2 separate regions of the Homo sapiens genome follow, and region 2 is linked to region 1. Evidence: fine-mapped expression QTL. A gene starts in region 1. The other region holds a variant in brackets. All regions are shown on one strand. Distances are from middle to middle.

Region 1 (8,472 bases):
TCCTAAAAAATACAAACCAATAAAGCAACTGAAAGATCACCGATTGCCTGGACATGAAAATATTTTAATGGGGGCAGTGATACTTACAGGGGGATGTTTGGGGTCTAGATTGTAATGGCTTCGCTCAAAAGTCACCAAATTTAAGTGTGTATCGTTTATGTCAGTTGTGCCTCAAAGCCATTTTAAAATGACTGTCACATATGGGGTATGTCGCTTTAAATTAGCCTAGGGCCTTCTAAAGCTCCAGAATTCCTGGGCTTTGCTTTTAGACATTTCTAGCTCTTAATGAGGAGAGGTAAGCTAACAGCTAGGACATGTTTCACAATAGCCTGAAGACTTAAAAAAAAAAAAAAAAGCCTTAATTTTTTTTTCAGGTGCCACACCTCCCTGGATGATCCAAGATGAAGAATACATTGCTGGGAACCAAGAAATAGGACCATCCTATGAAGAATTTCTTAAAGAAAGTAAGTAAACTAATTCAAGAGAGGATCGTCTAAATCTTCACACTCAAAAATGGTTTCCTTGCCTGTGTGTGGTGGCTCATGGCTATAATCCTAGCATTTTGGGAGGCTGAGGTGGGAGGGTCACTTGAGCCCAGAAGTTTGAAAACAGCCTGGACAACATAGTGAGACCCCATCTCTATATTCTTCAATAAAGAAAAATAAAAGTTTCCCTATCATTGTACAGAGGAAAAACAGAAGTTGAAAAAACTCCCCCCAGACCGAGTTGGGGCCAACTTTGATCACAGCTCCAGGACCAGTGCAGGCTGGCTGCCCTCTTTTGGCCGCGTCTGGAATAATGGACGCCGCTGGCAGTCCAGGTATGTGTGTTCAGTGCCGGGTCTCCAACCTACCCATCCAACCTCCTTTTTGGAGATGTCACCCTTCATCATCGTGTTAACCCTTTATTTCCTTTCAGACATCAATTCAAAACTGAAGCTGCAGCAATGAAGAAGCAGTCACATACAGAAAAAAGCTAATCATGCTCTCTACCAACTACCATGAGGCTAAAAGCAAAGTCAACAAACCCCTATTATACCTTCCACCAAATTCTTTATCATTGTCTTTCTTAGGAAACAGACATACTCATTCATTTGATTTAATAAAGTTTTATTTTTCCAAATGTACAGCTGGTTGGACCTGTAAAAAAAAATTAAAAGAATCAGAACCATAAAGCTTTGTATCTACCTCCTACACCATGAGCCCACACATTCCTACTCACCTATTCATGCATCTTCACCAGCAGCTGGAGCATCTCCACCCTTGGTATTTCTGGTGTAAATTACTTGAGCTCTGTGCTTTGAAACCAGTTTGATAAGTCCTAGGGGGAGAGAATAGCACGATGAGATGCTTAACAGATGCTACAATAGAAACTAGTAAGGTTTTTGGCTGGGCGCGGTGGCTCATGCTTATAATCCCACTGCTTTGGGAGGTGGAGACGGGCAGATAGCTTGAGGTAAGGAGTTGCACACCAGCCTGGCCAACAAGGTGAAACCCCATCTCTACCAAAAATACAAAAATTAGCTGGGCATGGTGGCACATGCTTGTAATTCCAGCTACTTGGGAAGCTGAGGTGAGGACCACCTGAACCCAGGAATTGGTGGTTGCATTGAGCCAAGACTGCCCCTCCGCACTCCAACCTGGGCAACAGAATGAGACTCTAGTAAGGTTTGTTTTGGCCGGGTGCAGAGGCTCATGCCTGTAATCCCAGCACTTTGGACAGGTGGATCTCTTGAGCCCAGGAGACCAGCCTGGGCAACATGGCAAAACCGCATCTCTATTTAAAGAAAAGGAAAACAAAAAGACAGAGTTCTCTCAGAGGTGCCCAGAATGGTCTTAAAACTCCTTGGCTCAAATGATCCTCCTGCTTTGGCCTCCCAAGTAGCTAGAAATACAAGGGTACCACTGCACCTGGCTCCAGAATTGCTTAATCTGACGTTCGGTAACCGAGAATCCTAGTTTTTAACGATCATCTATCCTTACTTTTCCTTTAAATTAGGGCTCCATTATCTTCCACCCCCCCCCCCTTTCTGAGACAGTCTTTTGCTGTCACTAAGGCTGGAGTGCAGTGGTGTCATCTCGGCTCACTGCCACCTCCATCTCCTGGGTTCAAGGGATCCTCATGCCTCAGCATCCTGAGTAGCTGGGATTACAGACGTGTGCCCCCACGTCCAGCTAACTTTCAGTAGAGCAGGTTTTCACCATATTGGCCAGGCTGGTCTTTAACTCCTGACCTCCGTTGATTCACCCGCCTTGGCCTCCCAAAGTGCTAGAATTATAGACGTTCAGTCACTATAGTTAGCTGAGCCTTATTATTGTGGAATTATGGTAATCAGACCATACTACTGAGTAGACCGTACTAAATTTCTGGTTTTAAAATTTAATACATCAACAAAATATTTACCATAAAGGTTTTAAACATTTTCAAAGTTGTTTCAAAATAGTAATCTAATTATTTCAAAAACGGTTGTCCCTGTAATTCTATGCATCCATTTACTCGAAACATAAAAGATCCTTGGGCTTCACTAAACTGCCACAGGGTCCACGGCACAAAAGTGGCTAAGAACCCTGAGAATTCATCTCAGGATCAGGAGTAAGACGTCAGAATTACATTACTAACAGCCAATGGTCAAGCCACGCTTTTTTTTTTTAATTCTGCTTTTCCAGCAAAACCACTGAAGATGCTTAACATGGTCAAGACAATTTAACCTACAAAAACACACATGTAGGATACACCCCTCACCTTTACTAAGGAGCTCCTGAAGGGCTGCCCTGGCCAGGGAGCCTCGAATCTTCAGTCTCTCAGAGACCACAGCTGGGGTTATAAGTTTATAGTTGGGAACTTCCTTACAGAGTTTATCATAGGTAGCTTTGTCAAACAAGACTAAGTTATTGAGCTTGTCCCGAACTTTGCCTTTGGACCACTTCTGCTCACCAAAACAAAACAGAAACAAGTTAGTATTTCTGGCAGAAGCACCCTTTCCCTCTCGAGTAATCTGCGTCAGAGAAATCTGTTCCACCGTTATCAAGGATAAATTACACATTACTAAAACAAAAACAAAAAAAAAACACCGACACGTTTTTGGCCTTCAAACAGGGGCCGAGCCCCACTAGATCAGTTAAAAATAACACAGCAGGCACAGCGGCAGACACTTCGCACAACAGACCCATTTTCATGATCCTAATGGGAAAAAGAACGAGTGGTGACGGGAAGATAAACTCTCACATTTTGACTCTAGAAATCTACACCTGAAAAACCACTTACTATACAAGTTACCTATTACTAGAGGATTACGAGAGAGTTACCCCTAGTCTCTTTCAGAGAGGTCTTATTTCTACCTTCTTTTTGGCCTTGCCCCCGGATTTGTTCACTGGGTCTTTGTCTTTCTTGGCCGACTTTCCAGCGTCCTTCTTCTTCTTGTCGTCCTTAGGCGGCTGTAGGAGGGCAGCGGGAATGCAACCAGGTCCTCAAATAGCGCCAAAGTCCCCTAATACTGCGCCCTCAGCCCCCGCAAACTCCACCACCAGAGCACATGGGCCAAGCAATAACCGCGCCCGCCCTGCAACCGAGGCCGGCAGGCCAAGGAGCGCTCCCGCCGAAGGCTCTCCCCACTGAGTCCTCAAACCCAAGAACGCCGGCGACTTCACACCCCTGAAGCTTACCATTGCGAAGCTCGGAGAATAGCAGCAGACACCGCAGCCTCGTCAAGATGTCGGACAAAAAGGAAGCGCTGCTCAGAAACGGGCCCAAAAACCACCGTCCGCTGTGAGTACTTCCGGGGCAAAAGGCGGAGCCAGGCAGAAGAAGTCCCACGGCGAAGCGCTCGCCCTCTAGCCTGAGGCGGAAGACAGGAAGTGGATTCTAGTTCCCAAGCCGCACCGCCTAAATACTGCCGGAGTCTGCGCTAGTTGTGACGCATACTATAGCGCTGTTTTCCTGCACTGATAAACGAAAAGCAATCCACCAGGTCTCGGCAGCTAACTTTCCGGCACTACTTATGCCCGAGCGTGTCGCTCCCAGTGCGCAAGTGCAGCAGGTGGCTGCACGGGGGGCGCGGGAGGAGGAGGAGGAGGAGGAGGAGGCTGGGGTGGGGCCGGCGGCAAGTGCTGTGATGCGGTTCCGGGGAGGGGCCGTCGGGTAGAGGCTGAATACCAGTTTCCGAGCGGCAAGGCAGCGATGGCGATTTTTAGTGTGTATGTGGTGAACAAAGCTGGCGGCTTGATTTACCAGTTGGACAGCTACGCGCCACGGGCTGAGGCTGAGAAAACTTTCAGTTATCCGCTGGATCTGCTGCTCAAGCTACACGATGAGCGTGTGTTGGTTGCTTTCGGCCAGCGGGACGGCATCCGAGGTGGGCTAGGCTCGGGCCCGTGGCGGGTGCGGGGGTGGGAGGGCCCCAGTGCTGTAGAAGTGGGCTGGTTGTAGGTGCGGGGTTGGGGGAAAAGGGGTTGTGTCGGGTCCCTTGTCCCCTCGGCGGAATCCCCGGGCTGCACCTTCGCTGACCGTTAGCTTCACCTCTGCAGTGGGTCATGCAGTGCTGGCCATCAATGGCATGGACGTGAATGGCAGGTACACGGCCGACGGGAAAGAGGTGCTGGAGTATCTGGGTAACCCTGCTAATTACCCGGTGTCCATTCGATTTGGCCGGCCCCGCCTCACTTCTAATGAGAAGCTTATGCTGGCCTCCATGTTCCACTCGTAAGTCCCCCGTCTCCTGAACGGCAGCGCTTGTAATTTGTCTACCTTTTCTTAAATCGTCGTTCTGGTGTTATGAAAAACGCAACCGATCCAGATCTAGATTTTAGGTAATAACGGCAGTGGTGTCATCTTTTTTTGCTGGGTGGGGAGGGGCCGCGGAGTTACCCAGGCTGGAGCGCAGTGGCGGGATCTCGGCTCACTGCAGCCTCTGCCTCCCAGGTTCAAGCGATTCTCCTGCCTCAGCCTCCCGAGTAGCTGGGATTACAGGCGCGTGCCACCACGACCAGCTAATTTTTGTATTTTTAGTAGAGAGGGGTTTTGCCATGTTGGCCAGGCTGGTCTCAAACTCCTGACCTCAGGTGATCCACCTGCCTCGGCTTCCCAAAGTGCTGGGATTACAGGAGTGAGCCACCGCGCCCGGCCGAGGTGTCATCTTACTTAAAGTCAACTTCTCTTCTCTGAGCCTTAGTTTCTTCATATTTAAAGAAAGCCAGTTTAACTAAATGACCTTTAAACTTTTTCTGCTCTCAATTGTGATATCAGATGTGCCGGCCTTTGCTTAAACACAAGCTTAGTAAGCGTGGCACATATTCCTAGAGTATTCATTTTACCCAAAGTTTTAGATGTAAAATGTCTTGTAACAAAGTATGAATGTAAAATATTCACAGAATTCAAATGAACTTAGAAATTTTGACACTACTGCCAGTCAGTTCACACTACTTCTCCTGACTGTCCCAGGCTGTAATGTGAACTCCTCAGCAAATAGGGACACTTCAGTGGAAGTTTGAGAAGCACTCCTTCCTTAGAGCAACTTTGCCTCCTTTGCATATAGGCTCTTTGCCATCGGCTCCCAGCTGTCTCCTGAACAGGGAAGCTCAGGCATTGAGATGCTGGAGACAGACACATTCAAATTGCACTGCTACCAGACACTGACAGGTATGCATCTCCACGGAGGCCAGAGGAGTGTGATGGAGAAGGTGGGGAAGAGATACTGATAAGTTTGCATCTCCAGGTGGGCCAGAGGAGTGTGGTGGAGAAGGTGGGAGGAGGGGGTTGACCAAAGACACCTTTGGTAAGCAAGAAGAGGGGGTGTGCTTTTCCTGGCACAATTCTTTTTTTTTTTGAAATGTTTCACTCTTGTTGCCCAGGCTGGAATGCAGGGGCATGATCCGCCCCCTGGGTTCAAGCGATTCTCCTGCCTCAGGCTCCCAAATAGCTGGGATTACAGGCATGTGTCACCACACCCGGCTAATTTTTCTGTTTTTATTAGAGATGGTGTTTCTCCATATTGGTCATGGTGGTCTCAAACTCCCGACCTCAGGTGATTGCCCGCCTCCCAAAGTGTTGGGATTACAGGCGTGAGCCACCACACCCGACCCACAGTTCTTTTTTTTTTTTTTTTTTTTGAGATGCAGTTTCACTCTGCCACTCAGGCTGGAGTGTAGTGGCATGATCTTGGCTCACTGCAGCCACCACCTCCTGGGTTCAAGCAATTCTCCTGCCTCAGCCTCCCAAGTAGCTGAGACTACAGATGCCCGCCACCACACCCAGCTAATTTTTTGTGGGGTTTTTTTGTTTTGTCTTGTTTTGAGATGGAGTCTTGCTCTGTCACCCAGGCTAGAGTGCAGTGGCGCGATGTTGGCTCACTGCAGCCACCACTACCCGGGTTCAAGCAATTCTCCTGCCTCAGCCTCCTGAGTAGCTGGGATTACAGGCATCCGCCACACGCCCAGCTAATTTTTGTATTTTTTAGGAGAGATGGGGTTTCACCATGTTGGCCAGGCTGGTCTCGAACTCCTGACCTCAGGTGATCCACCTGCCTCTGCCTCCCACAGTGCTGGGATTACAGGCATGAGCCACCGCGCCCGGCCTTCCTGGCACAATTTTATAGACACATCTGTTTGTTTGTTTTGTGAATACAAAACCAATATTTAATCTGAAACTGATTTTGTCCATGCCACCCAGCATGTTCAGCAGAGGTTATCTTGTGTTCAGATAAAACTCACCTTAATGCTATTTCCTGTTGCGTGTACTTTGGAAGGTGTTAAGTGTTTTTCCAAAATGAAATTTGAAAGCAAAATGGATATGACCTTTGGATTGCCAGTGTCATTGCTTCACCCTCTTCATTTATTGAAAACTGCCTGACTTTGTCCCCTGCCTGGCAATGTTTCTGCTGAGGGACTCCAAAACTGTTAGTAAGTGGCAGAGCTAGAACTCAAAGCCTGGTCTTAATCAGGTGGGTGACATAACAAAGTTACTTCACTTCTCTGGTCTCATCGGTAGATTCAAAGTCTTGCCTTTCCTGCATTATGTGGTAAAAAGAATAAAATTAAAATAGGCTTATGAAAGTGTTTTGCAAAATTGAAAGTGCTGTACAAATACAGGATGACACTATTTGCTCCAGTGTCTACGCTTTGGTAACCATTCTTGGTCTCTCTCCAGGGATCAAGTTTGTGGTTCTAGCAGATCCTAGGCAAGCTGGAATAGATTCTCTTCTCCGAAAGATTTATGAGATTTACTCAGACTTTGCCCTCAAGAATCCATTCTATTCCTTAGAAATGCCTATCAGGTAAGTGGCCCCACTTCCCAGATACTGTTTAAAGCGTCCTTGCCCCTCCCTGTGTGCTCTGTCCAAAGTTAGCTGAAGCATAGTAGAGTATTACTTTTTTTGTTTGTTTGTTTTTGAGACGGAGTTTCGCTCTTGTTGCCCAGGCTGGAGTGCAATGATGCGATCTTGGCTCGCTGTAACCTCTGCCTCCCGGGTTCAAGCGATTCTCCTGGCTCAGCCTCCTGAGTAGCTGGGATTGGATGCATGTGCCACCACGCCTGGCTAATTTCATGTTTCTAGTAAAGACAAGGTTTCACCATGTTGGTCAGGCTGGTCTCAAACTCCCGGCCTCAGGTGATCCACCTGCCTTGGCCTCCCACAGTGCTGGGATTACAGGCGTGAGCCACTGCGCCCGGCCGAGTATTACTTTTAAGTAAGACACAAGGAAAGGCCGGTGGCTCACGTGTGTAATCTCAGCACTTTGGAAGACGGAGAGGGTAGGATCACTTCAGCCCAGGAGTTTGAGATCAGCCTGGACAACATAGAACCCCATCTTTACAAAAAAAAAAAAAATTAGCCTGGTGTGGTGGCGGACACCTGTAGTGCCAGCTATTAAGGAAGCTGAGGCGGGAGGATTGCTTAAACCTGGAAGGTCAAGGCAGCAGTGAACCATGCTCGTGCCACTGCATTCCAGCCTGGGCAACAGAACAAGACCGTGTCTCTAAATAAATAAGACAACAGTAGCTGGGTGCAGTGGCTCACGCCTGTAATCCCAGCACTTTGGGAGGCTGAGGCGGGCGGATCACTTGAGGTCAGGAGTTTAAGACCAGCCTGGTCAACATGGTGAAACCCCATCTCTGCTAAAAATACTGAAAATACAAAAATTAGCCAGGTGTGGTCGTGTGCACCTGCAATCCCAGCTACTCAAGTAGGCTGAGGCAAGCAGAATCGCTTCAATCTGGGAGGAAAAGGTTGCAGTGAGCTGAGATCGTGCCACTGATTCCAGCCTGGGTGACTATTTAGAGAAAACAGACTTTCCTTGGTGTTTATGTCATTTTTGTTTGTTTGTTTGTGGGGTTTTTTTTGTTGATGTTTTTTTTTTTTTTTTTTTTTTTGAGACTGAGCTTCACTCTTAACCACCCAGGCTGGAATGCAATGGTGCCATCACGGCTCACCACAACCTCTGCCTTCCGGGTTCAGGCGATTCTTTTGTCTCAGCCTCCGGA
Region 2 (15,782 bases), 36 kb before region 1:
AGTCTAGGAGGCTGCAGTAGTAATCCAGACAAGAGATGATGGTAGATTGGGCCAGGGTAGTAGCAGGGAGAACCAGCTGGCTATGCTGATGGATTGGATATGGCGTATAAGACAGACAATTGAGTATGAGCCTTCAAAGTGTTTTGACCTAGTGGAAGGATAGAGTTGCCTTGTACTGAGTGGGAGACAGGTTTAGGAAGGAAGATCAGGAATTCTGTTCTGGATATGCTGAGCTGGAGATCCTTAGACATCCAAGTAGAAGCATTGAGTCTGCAGTTGGATACATGAGCCTGGAGTTCTGGAGAGAAGTGGGGACTGCAGATGTAAATTTTGGGTCTTTTGGTATATGGGTGGAACTTAAGGAGTAAGAATAGAGGAGGAACAAGAATGAGCCCTGGGGGCAGTCCATTGTAAAGAGATTGGAGAGAAGAGAGATAACTAGCAAAAAAGACTATTGAGAATCAAAACTAGGGCGTCTGTGGTATCCTGGAAACCAAGTGGAAAAAGCCTTTCAAGGAGGGAGGGGTTGGATGAGTGGAATGTAAGTGATGATTGGACTTAACAAAGCAGAGGTCCCTGGTTAGTGGTTTTAGTAAGTGGTAGAACAAAAAACCTGACTGAAGGGGGTTTAAGAGTAGAAGGAGGGGAAGTAGAGGCAATGTGTTATGCCTCAACAGGAAATAAGATGGGATAATCTTTTTCTTTTTCTTTCTTCTTTTTTTTTTTTTTAGAGACAGGGTCTCTATCTGGTGCCCAGGCTGGACTGCAGTGGCACCAGCACAGCTCACTGCAGTCTTGAGCAGCCTTGAGCAGCCTTGAGCAGCCTTGAACTCCTCGGCTCAAGTGATCCTCCTGCCTCAGCTTTCCAAAGCAGGCTGAGATTACAAGCATGAGCCACTGCACCTGGTCCCTAAAATGGGAGAATTAACAGCATGTTTGCATGCTGATGAGAATGACCCAACAAAGACAAAAAATTAGTGACACAGGAAAGAGAGGGGAAGATTTGTGGAACAACATCCTTGAAAAAGCATGGGGGATCTGTGCCAAAGAGAGACACAGACATACAAAGGTGCTATCCTTGGGTCGCAATGAGATCACCAGTCCATTGATCCTATCACCTTTTCACTGTTTCAATCACTTGATATGTCCACCCTTATTTAACTAACTTGAATCCCATGGTCAGATATTACGCAGGTTCCCTGGATCATCTGTGGCTTTGGAGCACTTTGTTGGCCAAACCACAACCCTGACTAAATCCACCTCTGCCAAACGAGTGCGCCAAAACCATAATTCAGTGGACTGGTGACCTCAGTGGGATCATAGTTGGGGTTGAGGGAGTTAGCCAGAAAGACACGAGGTGGTGCGTTTTTATGTGGTGCATAAATGAGGTTACGGAGAGGTTGCAGTTGTTGGTTTAGGTTATGCCTGAGGGAGTGTCCACAGTAGAGTAGAAGTCAAACTCGCTGGAGAAGAGTTCAATAAATAGCAAAGATCATGTTTTTGTTTTTGAAGCAAGGTCTGGCTTTGTTGCCCAAGCTGGAGTGCAATAGCGTAAGCTTGGCTCACTGCAACCTCCCTTTTCCCGCTCAAGCCATCCTCCCACTTCAGCCTCCTGAGTAGCTGGGACTACAGGCTCACGCCACCACACTCGGCTAGATTATTATCTTTGTATTTTTTATAGAGATGGGGTTTCACCATGTTGCCCAGGCTGATTTCAAACTCCTGGGCCCAAGCAATCCGCCTGCCTAAGCCTCTTAAAGTGCTGGGATTACAGGCATGAGCCGCTGCACCTGGCCAGCAGCCAAGATTTAAGGCAGGAGTAGTGTTGGAGAGTGACAGCTAAACCAGGAGGTCAGTAGATGGTAGTAACAATGGAGATTGATTAGTATATAAGTTCCTGTATTAACTTGAATATATACATCCAGGAGCAGACAGTAAGGTCGAGTAAATTGTGGTCCTGCCTGATTGCTCTTAACAAGGGCTGCTCCAGTTGATACACAGAACTGCAGTAAAATAAGAGATTCTGTCTCTTTGCATGTTTCTCAACACTTGGTATTATCTTTATAATTCCAGTCAATTTGATTATCTCATTATCTTACAGTGTTTTTCGTATTATTAATAATGCTGATCATCTCGTTAGCCATTCAGTTATCCCCTCCTTGTGAATGCTGATTCATATCATTTGTCCATTTCTAAGTTTGTGTTGACCTTTTACATATTGATTTGTAGGAGCTCTCTATGTATCAGAGAACTGAGAAATTTGGATTGAAGTTTTGCTATTTTGTTTGTTTGTCTATTTGTTTTTTGCTTATGGTGATTTTTACTATGTTAGAACTTTTTTTTGAGACAGAGTCTTGCTGTGTCACCTAGGCTGGAGTGTAGTGGCACGATCTCAGCTCACTGCAACTTCTGCCTCCCAGGTTCAAGTGATTCTCCTGCCTCAGCCTCCCAAGTAGCTGGGACTACAGGTACACACCACCAAGCCCGGCTAATTTTTTGTACTTTTAGTAGAGATGGGGTTTCACCTTGTTGGCCAGGCTGGTCTCAAACTCCTGACCTCAAGTGATCCACCTGCCTCGGCCTCCCAAAGTGCTGGGATTACAGGTGTGGGCCACCGCACCTGGCCAAACTTTAATTTTTGTGCTATAATATGTGCATAAAACTTACAGATTCATTTTGAGGGTAACTGGCATCTTAATAGTATGTATTATAAGTCTTTGTTCAAGTATTTTAAGTTCTTTATTTAAGAGCTGAGATGGGAAGATTGCTTGAGTTGGGAGGTGGAGATTGCAGTGAGCCGGTGTCACACCACTGCACTCCAGCATGGGCAACCAAGCAAGACCCTGTCTCCAAAAAAACCCCAATTTTTCTATCTTTTGCTACTTTTTCCTTTTTTGAATACTATGTTGAATATTAGCAACATAATAGGCATCCTCTCTAATTACTGAGCTCTCCGATAAGTATATCATTTCTCAAACAAAAGCCTAGATTCATCTGTAATATAATGACACTCATAGGGACAGTGAGGGGGCAAAAATAGTTTTTGTCCTGAACAACCATTAATGGTGGTGCCACTTGCTAAGACAAAGAATACAGGAAGGCCAGGCATGGTAGCTCACGCCCGTAATCCCAACACTTTGGGAGCCCGAAGCAGGAGGATTGCTTGAACCCAGGGGTTCGAGACCAGCCCAGGCAACATAGACCCTCATCTATACAAAAAATACAAAAATTGGGCTGGGCGCGGTGGCTCAAGCCTGTAATCCCAGCACTTTGGGAGGGTGAGGCAGGCAGATCATGAGTCAGGAGTTCGACACCAGCCTGGCCAATATGGTGAAACCACGTCTCTACTAAAAAATACAAAAATTAGCCGGGTGTGGTGGCGTGCGCTTGTAGTCCCAGCTTCTTGGGAGGCTGAGGCAGGAGAATCACTTGAACCTGGGAGGCAGAGGTTGCAGTGAGCCAAGATCGCGCCACTACACTCCAGCCTGGGCGACAGAGCGAGACTCCATCTGAAAAAAAAAAAATACAAAAATTAGTGGGGTGCAGTGGCATGTACCTGTAGTTCCAGCTACCTGGGAGACTGAGGTGGGAGAATCTCTTGAGCACACCACTGCACTCCAGCCTGTGCAACAGAGCAAGACCCTGTCTCAAAAAAAATACAAGAATACAGGAGGAAGAGCAAGAAGATGGAATTCAGTTTTAGAAGTGCGTTTGAAGTGCCTGTGGGCTACCCAAGTAAAGACATCCAGTAGGTAGTTCTCCTTAAGGGCTAGCACAGAATGCTAGGCTAGAGGTGAAGATTTGAGAGCTCTACATTTTTTTATAGATGTTAACTGAAGCCACGGACATGCATGAGATCATTCAGGGATAGTATACGTAGAGTGAGAAGAAAAGAATGCAGAGGGGAATGAGAAGGTCAGAGAGGTAAAGGGAAAACCCGTAGAAGTAGAATGTGATGTTAACTCCCAAGGCAGGGCCCACAACCTTCTCCCAGAGAAGCCTTAAGGCCTAGGATCCTAGGGTCACAAAGGGATATTCTAGGATGTTTTGACTCTCTCTGTCTTTCTTTTTGCCAGTTGCCAGGTATAAACTCCGAATTGTTAAGCCACCAAAATTACCCCTAGAGAAAAAACCCAACCCTGATAAGGATGGTACGTATTGAGTTCTCTGACCTGTTTCTGTGGCCTGGGCTGGAGACCAGGGGCACCCAAAGCCAGTGGGCTGTGGCACACAATCTTTTGTTCTGCACAGGTCCAGATTATGAGCCCAACCTCTGGATGTGGGTAAATCCCAACATTGTGTATCCCCCTGGAAAGCTGGAGGTCTCAGGACGTAGGAAGAGGGAGGACCTGACAAGCACACTCCCCTCCTCTCAGCCACCCCAGAAGGAGGAAGATGCCAGCTGCTCAGAGGCCGCAGGGGTGGAATCACTGTCCCAGTCCTCCAGCAAGCGGTCTCCCCCTCGGAAGCGGTTTGCCTTTTCCCCCAGCACCTGGGAGGTATGCATTTTTGGGGATGGGAGTGGGACTTGGGCAGTAGGCGAGGGGCATGGGGAAGAGCCATTACAGTTCTGCTCTCTTAGCCATAGCAAAAGGTGAATGGGTTCAGAAATTACCTACATGCTTGGGTTGGGGAGAAGCCCAAATGGTGGCCTTAGACCACCCCCCCTTCCTGCCACTGCACCCTGGAGTAGAGGCTGAGGAGTCAGGACCAGTTCCTACTCTGTGCTCCTCTAGCTCACAGAAGAGGAGGAGGCTGAGGACCAGGAAGACAGCTCCTCTATGGCTCTCCCATCCCCTCACAAAAGGGCCCCCCTCCAGAGTCGGAGGCTTCGGCAAGCCAGCAGCCAGGCGGGGAGGCTCTGGTCCCGGCCCCCTCTCAATTACTTCCACCTAATTGCCCTGGCATTAAGAAACAGTTCCCCCTGTGGCCTCAACGTGCAACAGATCTACAGTTTCACTCGGTATGTGCCGGGGGCCCTGCGAGGAGGGGGAAGTGGGGGCCAGGGCCCCGGGCTGATGCCTTCCAATCCATCCCAGGCCCTGGGTTGCTGACCTGGTTTCCCTATCTGGGTCTGAGAGGACAAGTATGTTCCCAGTTCCCTTTTCCCAGGTGCATTTGTGCCCACATTGTGCCCACATTTTATGGCTTTAGTTTTTTTTTTCTTTTTAACAAGTTTTCAGTGTTCTTTGGGTATAGTTCTCCTTTAAAACATACATTCACTTGGGTCAGGTAACAGTTTCCCCACCATCCTCTGAAGATCAGCCAGTCTAAAGTCAGGTTTCCCCAACGGTTCCCACCTGCTTCTGCTAGGACTGGACTGCCTGGCACAGCTCCCTGCACCCCCAGGGGTGCAGAGAACCCAGTTGAGAAGGATTTTCCATTTAGCTCAGATAGTCCTGCTCACAGGAGGGTGAGGAAGGGAGTTTCTTGGGCCCTTTCCCAGTGTTAGGAGAAGTGCCTAATGTCTCAGGACAGGAATTTTCAAGTGGTGTCCGTCCTCAACCAAGATTCCTCTTACAGGAGCTGCTTGGCCTGATTCTGCTTTGTTCATGCTGTGGTCCAAGCCCTGGGCCCTCAGAGGGAGGGAGGGTTCAGGTGAGCCACGCACCACGTGGATGCTTTGCCACGTGCTCAGTTAGCAAAGAGCAACTCCAGGCCAACTTGCTACTATCCCCCTGGAGAGAAGGGCTAAAGCCCCTGGCCCCTGGGTAGAACATGCCCCAGAGAAGGGCATTCCCCAGACATAACATGCCTTTCCTTACCTCTCCTCCCTGTCCATAGAAAGCACTTCCCCTTTTTCCGGACGGCCCCGGAAGGCTGGAAGAATACTGTCCGTCACAATCTCTGTTTTCGAGACAGCTTTGAGAAAGTGCCTGTCAGCATGCAGGGCGGGGCCAGCACACGGCCTCGATCTTGCCTCTGGAAGTTGACCGAGGAGGGACACCGCCGCTTTGCGGAGGAGGCCCGCGCCTTGGCTTCCACTCGGCTAGAAAGTATCCAACAGTGCATGAGCCAGCCAGGTGTGAAGACTTGTTGTGCGTGGGCCCAAGGGGAAGAGACCTGAGGATCCTGACCCAAGGCCAAGTGTGGAAGCCTGGGTCACACCGTGGGGGTGGGGGAATGCATCTTCTATAGGAAACAGGGAGATTAACAGTGATCTGAGACCCTCAGGTGATGCCTGCCTGAGGTGAGACCTCCCCCACCAGTGTGGGGCGTGATGTGCCAGGAATCCATGGGCAAACAACTAAGGGGCAACTGGCCTTACCAAGACCAGCAGTCTAGGCAATAGTGAGCACACAACATGAGAAGCACAGTTAATAGAGGTTATGTACAAAGAGTACTTCTACTTTCCCTGGAGCAGTGCAGGGAGGCTTCAGAGAAGAGGCAGCATTTGAGCCTTGAGTGAAAGAAGCAGATGACCTGCTATGAGAGAGCATCCCAGGCCTAGGAAACAGCAATTGTGAAGTATAAACTCCTGAACTCTCTCCTTTTCTTACAGATGTGATGCCCTTCCTCTTTGATCTTTAACCCCAAGAAGCAACAGCCAGCTAATGCTTTATTAAAATTACCCTCACTAGCCTTCTGTGTGTGTCTGTGGAGGTGGGGTCTCTAAGGATGGGGTTAAGGGTGGAGGTGGAGATCAACTCCAAGGTTGGAGATGGAATGCCTTCAGCTTACAGATGCTCCTGAGGCAATGGGGCAGGTGCCTGCCGTGCAGCAAAGGGAGTCCGTAATTTTCTTTCCTCAAAGGAGGAAAATGCACAGCCTTCTAAAGCATCTTGGAGCAATTTCCATTTTTCTGGATTATGAAGATAATCTTGGCTGGATGCAGTGGCTCACACCTGTAATCCAGCACTTTGGGAGGCTGAGGCAGGAGGATCCCTTGAGCACAGGAGGTCAAGGCTGCAGTCGGCCATGATCACACCACTGCACTTTAGCCTGGGCAACAGCAAGACTCCATCTGTAAAAATTATTCTGGGAGATGCCCGTTTGTAGCAGCCAATTCTGTAAGCACCACACATTCATTCAATTGATACTCCTTAAGTGGCTACTGTGTACCAAGCTCAGGATAGAATACAGGTGCCAGGGAGAACTGCGCTGCATTCTCTTAGCTGCAATAGCGTTGAGGGCATTTGCTAAGGGAGCATAGAAAGGTGCTTTGGGGAGGCGCCATGTTTTGTTTTGTTTTGTTTTGTTTTTAAAGCTTACAGATGACTTTTTTGTGTGTGTGTGACAGTTTCACTCTTGCTGCCCAGGCTGGAATGCAATGGTGCAATCTCGGCCTACCGCAACCTTCACCTCCTGGGTTTAAGCGATTCTCCTGCCTCAGCCTCCCAAGTGGCTGGGATTACAGGCATGCACCACAAAGCCCAGCTAATTTTGTGTATTTTTTAGTAGAGACGGGGTTTCTCCATGTTGGTCAGGCTGATCTCGAATTTTCGACCTCAGGTGATCCACCTGCCTTGGCCTCCCAAAGTGCTGGGATTACAGGTGTGAGCCACCACACCCAGCAGGTGACTTTTTTTTTTTGAGACGGAGTCTCACCCTGTTGCCCAGGCTGGAGTGCAGTGGCACAATCTTGGCTCACTGCAACCTCCGCCTCCCAGGTTCAAGCGATCTTCCTGCCTCAGCTTCCCTAGTAGCTGGGATTACAGGCATGCACCACCAGGCCCAGTTAATTTTTGTATTTTTAGTAGAGACAGGGTTTTGCCATCTTGGCCAGGCTGGTTTCCAACTCCTGACTTCAGGTGATCCACCCGCCTTGGCCTCCCAAAGTGCTGGGATTACAGGCGTAAGCCACCACACCTGGCCTCTTGAGTTAATTTCTGTATGGTCAAGGTTCATTTCTGGCTTGTAGATGTCCAATTGCTCAGCCTCCCAAAGTGCTGGATTAAAGGTGTGAGCTGACTATAGCCTCGAACTCCTTGGGCTCGGGCAATTCTCCCACCTCAGCCTCCCAAGGAGCTGGGACTACAGGTGCGTACCACCACACCAGGCTA[A/ATTT]TTTTTTTTTTTTTTTTTTTTTTTTGAGACGGAGTTTTGCTCTTGTTGCCCAGGCTGGAATGCAATGGCACGATCTCTGCTCACTGCAACCTCTACCTCCTGGGTTCAAGCCATTCTCCTGCTGCAGCCTCCCAGGTAGCTGGGATTACAGGCATGCACCACCACACCCAGCTAATTTTGTATTTTTAGTAGAGATGGGGTTTCTCCATGTTGGTCAAGCTGGTCTCAAACTTCCGACCTCAGGTGATCCACGTGCCTCTATCTCCCAAAGTGCTGGCATTACAGGTGTGAGCCATCTCACCCGGCCACACCCGGCTAATTTTTTAAATTTTTTGTAGAGATGGAGTCTCACTCTTTCCCAGGTTGGTCTTGAACTGCTGGGCTCAAGCAATCCACCTGGTTTGGTTTGATTTTTTTTTTTTTTTTGAGATGGGAGTCGTGCTCTGTTGCCCAGGCTGGAGTGCAGTGGCACGATCTCGGCTCACTGCAACCTCCGCCTACCGGGTTCAAGCGATTCTCCTGTCTCAGCCTAGCAAGTAGCTCGGATTACAGGCACATGGCCACCAGGCCCCACTAATTTTTCTATTTTTAGTAGATACGGGGTTTCACCATGTTGGCCAGGTTGGTCTCGATCGCCCTGACGTTGTGATCCGCCTGCCTCAGCCTCCCAAAGTGCTGGGATTACAGGCACTAGCCAACTGATATTTTGTTGACTGAAGATTTCAAACACATACAAAGTCGGTCTAATGAACCCTACATATCTGTCATCCAGCTTCATCTCCCCACAGGCAATGTTATTAACACATTCATTCCCCTTTCCTGGAATTATTGTGTGTGTGTGTGTGTGTGTGTGTGTGTGTGTGTGTGTGTGTGTGTGTGTGTGTTTGAGACGGAGTCTCACTCTGTCACCCAGACTGGAATGCAGTGGCACTATCTCGGCTCACTGCAACCTCCGCCTCCCGGGTTCAAGCAATTCTCCTGCCTCAGCCTACCATGTAGTTGGAATTACAGGTGAGCGCCACCACGCCCAGCTAATTTCTGTATTTTTAATAGAGGGTTTCACCATGTTGCCCAAGCTGGTCTTGAACTCCTGACCTCAAGTGATCCACCTGCCTTGGCCTCCCTGGATTATTTTGAATCAATTTCTAGACATCATTTCTTTTCTCTAAAAAGACTGAACATGATACAATCATCACATCCAGGCCGGGCGCAGTGGCTCAAGCCTGTAATCCCAGCACTTTGGGAGGCCGAGGTGGGCGGATCACAAGGTCAGGAGATCGAGACCATCCTGGCTAACACGGTAAAACCCTGTCTCTACTAAAAATATAGAAAATTAGCTGGGCGTGGTGGCGGGCGCCTGTAGTCCCAGCTGCTTGGGAGGCTGAGGCAGGAGAATGGCATGAACCTGAGAGGCGGAGCTTACAGTGAGCTGAGATCGTGCCACTGCACTCCAGCCTGGGCGACAGAGCAAGACTCCGTCTCAAAAAAAAAAAAAATCACATCCAAAATTTTTAAAAATGTATTAGGAATCATATTCCTAATTTTCTAACTTTTTAAAATTTTTATTTCTTTTAGAGATGAGGTCTCCCTATGTTGCCAAGGCTGGTCTTAAACTCCTGGGCTCCCAAAGTGCTGGGATGACAGGTGTAAGCCACTGTGCCTGGCCCTAATTTTCTATTTTCTTAGCTTATTAGCTGAAATACTTCTGTAGAAAAATCTTCCTCTCTCAGGCCGGGCACAGTGGTTCATGCCTGTCATCCTGGCACTTTGGGATGCCAAGGCAGGCGGATCACCTGAGGTCATGAGTTGGAGACCAGCCTGGTCAACGTGGTGAAACCCCGTCTCTACTAAAAATACATTAGCCAGGCGTGGGGCACAAGCCTGTAATCCCAGCTACTCGGGGACTGAGGCAGGAAGATCACTTGAACCCAGGAGGTGGAGGTTGCAGTGAGCAGAGATCACGCCACTGCACTCCAGCCTGAGTGACAGAGGGAGACTTCGTCTCAAAAGAAAAATAGGGCCTGAGTTTCATTACCCTTCGCCATGCTGTTTGTCTCCAGCACACCCTCAGGAAAAGCTACTTGTGGAATAAGAGTCCTTGAGGCTGCAGGTCCCAGCTGGGGGGCTGTGGCCTCCCTGGTTGCAGGGGACAGCCTCAGGGCAGGGACAGCTGGCAGCCTTAGATCTGTGGGGAATAGGGAGAAGCCTGAGGACAAGGAAGGAATGAGTGAGGTTCAGGGCTGTTTAGGGATCCCACAGACACTCAGTGCTTAGAGACGATGCCAGATCTCACTCCCTCTCCGCTCTTCCCTCCTGCCCAACAGGCCTGCACAGAAACAAAGCTCTGCCTTCAAGGCCACCACTGCCCACCTGGGCTGGGCATAACTCCTGTCTTGAAGTGGCAGTGGGTGGTGCTTCACTCTTGAGAGAGTGGCTCCCTTGTCCAGAGGGCTCCCAGGTCTCTGCAACTGACCAGGGTTGAGGTAGTCTCACTTTTTCATTTTTCCTCCCTGCTTTCCTTGCTGGTAACTCCAATCTGATGTAGCTCCCGCCTCCTCATTTAAATTTTTATTTATTTTTCGTTTTGTCTTTGAGATAGGGCCCTTCAGTGGCACAATCACAGTTCATGTGCAGCCTTGAACTCCTGGACTCAAGCAATCCTCCACCTCCTGGGTTCAAGCAGTTCTCCTGCCTCAGCCTCCCGAGTAGCTGGGATTACAGACGCCCGCCACCACATCGGCTAATTTTTTGTATTTTTAGTAGAGATGGGGTTTCACCGTATTGTTCAGGCTGGTCTCAAACTCCTGACCTCAGGTGATCCACCTGCCTCGGCCTCCTAAAGCGCTGGGATTGCAGGCGTGGCCACCGCACCCAGCCTGGATGCTGATTTCTAAGTGATAGCCACTGCAGGAGTGGGTGAGGGGGACCAGGTCAGGTCATTTGCTCTGGGCCCACCCAGAGCTATCCGGCAGCCAGAGCCTCTTTCCTGCCACCCGAGTCTATTCAGCTCCCAGGAAGGAGGGGTCCTGAGTCCCAAGCTCTGCTTTCATCTGATTTGGCCTCAATTTGTCCCCATCATCTGCACTTCGTATACAGCCTTATCGCTGTGCACATTCTTGTTAACATCAGGGATTTTTTTGCTTTGTTTTTGTTTTTTGAGATGGAGTCTCACCCTGTTGCCCAGGCTGGAGTGCAATGGAGCAATCTCATCCCATTGCAACTTCCGCCTCCCAGGTTCAAGCGATTCTCCTGCCTCAGCCTCCCAAGCAGCTGGGACTGCAGGCGTGCACCACCGTATCTGGCTAATTTTTGTATTTTACTAAAGACGAAGTTTCATCATGTGGCCCAGGCTGGTCTCAAACTCCTGAGCTCTGGCAATCCACTCGCCTCGGCCTCCAACAGTACTAGATTACAGGTGTGAGCCACCACACCTGGCCAACATCAGGTTTAAGTTGCAAGTGGATCCCAAAATGCAGCAGATCAGAAAGAAAGTACAAAACAATACAGCGTTTACTAAGAAAAAATCTGCCTTTGCCCACTTTGCTCTCAACTCCTATACTTGCACCTAGTTTTCACTTATCAATTATTTTGTTATTTTTCTTTTTTTAGGCAGGATCGCAATCCCGGCTCACTGCAACCTCCACCTCCCAGGTTCAAGCAATTCTGCTGCCTCAGTCTCCTGAGTAGCTGGGACCACAGGCATGTGCCATCACGTCCTGCTAATTTTTGTATTTTTAGTAGAGATGGGGTTTCACCATGTTGCCCAGGCTGGTCTTGTACCCTCCCTGAGGTCAAGTGATCCACCCACGTCAGCCTCTCAAAGTGTTGGGATTACAGGTGTGAGCCACCGTGCCTAGACTTCAACAATTATTTGTTACGCATTTTCACTATACCAGGCCCTTGCCAGGTGTTAGGGATACAGCAAAGAAACCCAAATGGTTCCTCACAGTTTTCAGTCTAGATGTAAAGATACTAAACCAATACACTAATTATGTGCAATAATGCACAATGGTAATATTGAGTAAAGATTGGGTTATTGGCCAAGCATGGTGGCTCATGCCTGTAATCCCAGCACTTTGGGAGGCCAAAGCAAGATCGCCTGAGGTCAGGAGTTCAAGACCAAGCCTGGCCAACATGGTGAAACCCTGTCTCTACAAAAATACAAAAATTAGCTGGACATGATGGTGGGTGCTTATAATCCCAGCTACTCGGGAGGCTGAGGCGGGAGAATCACTTGAACCTGAGAGGCGGAGGTTGCAGTGAGAAGAGATCATGCCATTACACTCCAGCCTGGGCAACAGAGTGAGACTCCTTCTCAAAAAAAAAAAAAAAAAAAAAGATGGAGTTATTTTGAGAGAAAGCAATATTGGCATCTAATTTAGATTGGAGGGGAGATCAGAGAGGACCTTTCTAAGAAAGTGACATTTTAACTGAGACCTGTAGCATGAGGAGAAGTTAGCCAGGCTGAAGAACAGAAAGGAAAAGCATTCCTTTACTTTTTTTTTTTTTTTTTGAGACAGAGTCTTGTGCCGTCACCCAGGCTGGAGTGCAATGGCACAATCTTGGCCCACTGCAACCTCTGCCTCCCGGGTTCAAGCTTCTCCTGCCTCAGCCTCCCGAGTAGCTGGGATTACAGGGGCACACCACCACACCCGGCTAACTTTTTGTACCTTTAGTAGAGACAGGGTTTTACCATGTTGGCCAGGCTGGTCTTGAACTCCTGACCTCGTGATCTCCCTGCCTTGGCTTCCCAAAGTGTTGGGATTACAAGCATAAGCCACCGCCCCAGGCCGGAGGAAAAGCATTCTAATAGAGGCATTAGAATGGACAAAGCCCTGGAGGTAGAGACATACCTTGGCCTTTTGAGCAAACGGGATAAGACCATGGAAGAGAGAATACACTAAACAAGGGCAGAAAGATCCAAGGTAAAACTGGGAGAGGGGCAGGGTAGGCTTTCCTAGGCTATGACAGGGCATTTGGATTTTTTTCCAGTATGGTGGAAAGTAATTGAAGTAACTTACATAACTGTTTGTTGTTGTCGTTGTTAATCACAATTAGCCATTCATTGAAAGTGGCTTGTTGTGGGGAGAAGCCAACATGGAAGCAGGAACACCCATTAGGAGGTGACTGCGGTAAATCAGGCCGGTTGGAGGAGTAGTGGCAGTAGAGATGGAGACAGGGAGAAGAACAATTTGATGATGCATCGTGGAGGTCGAAAAAACAAGTCAATAGTAGTGACTGCAGGAGAAGAAAAGGCAAGAATGGCCGGGCGTGGTGGCTCACGCCTGTAATCCTAGCACTTTGGGAGGCTGAGGCAGCCGGATCACGAGGTCAGGAGATCGAGACCATCCTGGCTAACACAGTGAAACCCCATCTCTACTAAAAATACAAAAAATTAGCCGGTGTGGTGGCAGACGCCTGTATTCCCAGCTACTCTGGAGGCTGAGGCAGGAGAATGGCATGAACCTGGGAGGTGGAGCCTGCAGTGAGCCCAGATCGCGCCACTGCACTCCAGCCTGGGTGACAGAGCGGGACTCTGTCTCAAAAAAAAAAAAAAAGAAGGAAAAGGCAAGAATGACTCTGAGGTTTTTGGTTTGAGCAAGTAGGTGAATGGTGAGGAGAGGAAGCCTGCAGGAGTAGCAGGTTTGAGCGTTCTGTGTTTAGTATCTGTGAGACAAGTCCGGGCACGATGGCTCACACCTGTAATCCCAGTACTTGGGGAGGCAGAGGTGGGTGGATCACTTGAGCCCAGGAGTTGGAAACCAGCCTGGGCAACCTGGTGAGACCTCCTCTCTACAAAAAATAAATAAGCTGGGCGTGGTGGCGTGTGCCTGTGGTCCCAGCTACTTGGGAGGCTGAGGTGGGAGGATTGCTTGAGCCCAGGGGGATCAAGCCTGCAGTGAGTCATAATTGTGCCACTGCACTCCAGCCTGAGTAGTGACAGAGCAAGATCCTGTCTCCAATTAAAAAAAAAAAAAAAGGAATCTGTGAGGCCAGGGGCGGTGGCTCACACCTATAATCCCAGCACTTTGGGAGGCTGAGGTGGGAGGATCACTGAGTTCAGGAGTTTGAGACCAGCCTGGCCAACATGGTGAAACCCCGTCTCTACTAAAAATGCAAAAATTAGCCAGGTACGGTGGCTCACGCTTGTAATCCCAGCACTTTGGGAGGCTGAGGCAGGCGGATCATGAGGTCAGGAGTTTGAGACCAGACTGGCCAACAGGGTGAAACCCTGTCTCTACTAAAAATACAAAAATTAGCTGGGCGTGGTGGCGGGCGCCTGTAATCCCAGATACTTGGGAGGCTGAGGCAGGAGAATCGTTTGAACCCAGGAGGCAGAGGTTGCAGTGAGCCGAGATCGCGCCACTGCACTCCAGCCTGGGTGACAGAGCTAGACACTGTCTCAAAAAAAGAAAAAGAAAAAAAAAAATAGCCAGACGTGGTGGCACGCGCCTGTAATCCCAGCTACACAGGAGACTGAGACAAGAGAATTGCGTGAACCCAGGAGGCAGAAGTTGCCCTGAGCTGAGATCACACAGCTGCACTCCAGCCTGGGTGACAGAGCAAGACTCCATCTCAAAAAAAAAAGCGGGGGGGTGGGGCCGGGCACAGTGGCTCACGCCTGTAATCCTAGCACTTTGGGAGGCCGAGGTGGGTGGATCACCTGAGGTGGGGAGTTCGAGACCAGCCTGATCAACACGGAGAAACCCCGTCTCTACTAAAAAAAAAAAAAAAAATACAAAATTAGCTGGGTGTGGTGGCACATGCCTGTAATCCCAGCTACTTGGGAGGCTGAGGCAGGAGAATTGCTTGAGCTTGAACCCAGGAGGCGGAGGTTGTGGTGAGCTGAGCTCACGCCATTGCACTCCAGCCTAGGCAACAAGAGCAAAACTCCATCTCAAAAAAAAAAAAAAAAGGAATCTGTGAGACATCAGGGTGGTTATGTCAATGTCAAGTAGATATTTATAAGTCTAGAGTTCAGAAGAGAAGTCTGAGCTGAAAATGTAAATACACTGAGAGTCATCAGTATATAGATAGCACTTAATATCAAGTTCTATGTACTGACATAGAAAGATATCCACAAGGCCAGGCACGGTGACTCACGCCTGCAATCCCAGCACTTTGGGAGGCCGAGGCGGGTGGATCACTTGAGTTCGAGAGTTCGAGACCCGCCTGACCAACATGGAGAAACCCTGCTTCTATTAAAAATACAAAATTAGCCAGGCGTGGTGGTGCATAGCTGTAATCCCAGCTACTCGGGAGGCTGAGGCAGGAGAATCGCTCAAACCCGGGAGGCGGAGGTTGTTGTGAGCTGAGATGGCACCATTGCACTCCAGCCTGGGCAACAAGAGTGAAACTCCATCTCAAAAGGAAAAAAAAAGATAACCAAAATACAATTTGAGGAATTAAAAAAGAGTAGGAGAACAGTGTGTTCAAAATTACTCCAAATATGGCAGAAATTATGTTCACATATATATGAAGTCTAAACAGAGAAAACATCTTGATCAATATAGGTGTCAAAGAGCAATGGCCATCTTTGAGGACTGGGTAGGCAACATAAATGGGGCAATTGTTTGTAGCCTCTGTACAGTTTTTGTTTTTTACAAGAAATTGCTTTTTACAATTTTTCTTTTTTTTTTTTTCTTTTTTTTTTTTGAGACTGAGTCTTGCTGGAATGCAGTGGTAAGATCTCAGCTCACTGCAACCTCTGCCTCCTGGGCTCAAGTAATCGTCCTATCTCAGCCTCCCTGGTAGCTGGGACCACAGACACACACAATC

Which allele goes with the higher level. Positions count from the first base shown, and alleles are read on the strand shown. Sizes are in standard deviations (SD) of each study's normalised expression.
For the expression in regulatory T cells of the gene that starts at base 3,724 in region 1, allele ATTT in region 2 goes with a lower level than allele A (large effect, 1.5 SD a copy in Schmiedel 2018).

The links. PIP is the estimated chance that this variant, and not a neighbour inherited with it, causes the effect. A credible set is the group of variants that fine-mapping cannot tell apart.
Region 2: its variant is the best candidate, but not a certain one, in a credible set for the expression of RPS25 in regulatory T cells (Schmiedel 2018, PIP 0.75).

Annotation. Positions count from the first base shown.
Region 1 is chr11:119,014,620-119,023,091 of GRCh38, forward strand. It overlaps RPS25 (ribosomal protein S25), which reads right to left and starts at 3,724. Exons shown (of 5, transcript NM_001028.3): 1 at 3,663-3,724; 2 at 3,339-3,434; 3 at 2,743-2,926; 4 at 1,222-1,320; 5 at 1,098-1,139. The coding sequence starts at 3,665. The coding sequence ends at 1,226. It overlaps CENATAC (centrosomal AT-AC splicing factor), which reads left to right. Exons shown (of 11, transcript NM_198489.3): 9 at 375-464; 10 at 688-820; 11 at 919-1,174. The coding sequence ends at 979. TRAPPC4 (trafficking protein particle complex subunit 4) reads left to right here and starts at 4,147. Exons shown (of 5, transcript NM_016146.6): 1 at 4,147-4,351; 2 at 4,524-4,698; 3 at 5,531-5,634; 4 at 7,141-7,267. The coding sequence starts at 4,177. RefSeq lists enhancers at 3,446-3,515, 3,536-3,765, 4,020-4,718 and a silencer at 4,006-4,125.
Region 2 is chr11:118,974,706-118,990,487 of GRCh38, forward strand. It overlaps FOXR1 (forkhead box R1), which reads left to right. Exons shown (of 6, transcript NM_181721.3): 2 at 4,077-4,151; 3 at 4,252-4,499; 4 at 4,737-4,963; 5 at 5,785-6,023; 6 at 6,503-6,582. The coding sequence ends at 6,531. Among named protein-coding and RNA genes, the nearest start is that of FOXR1, 11 kb to the left of the region's middle. RefSeq lists enhancers at 5,436-5,954, 5,955-6,472. The variant A/ATTT (reference allele first, on the strand shown) is at 8,004.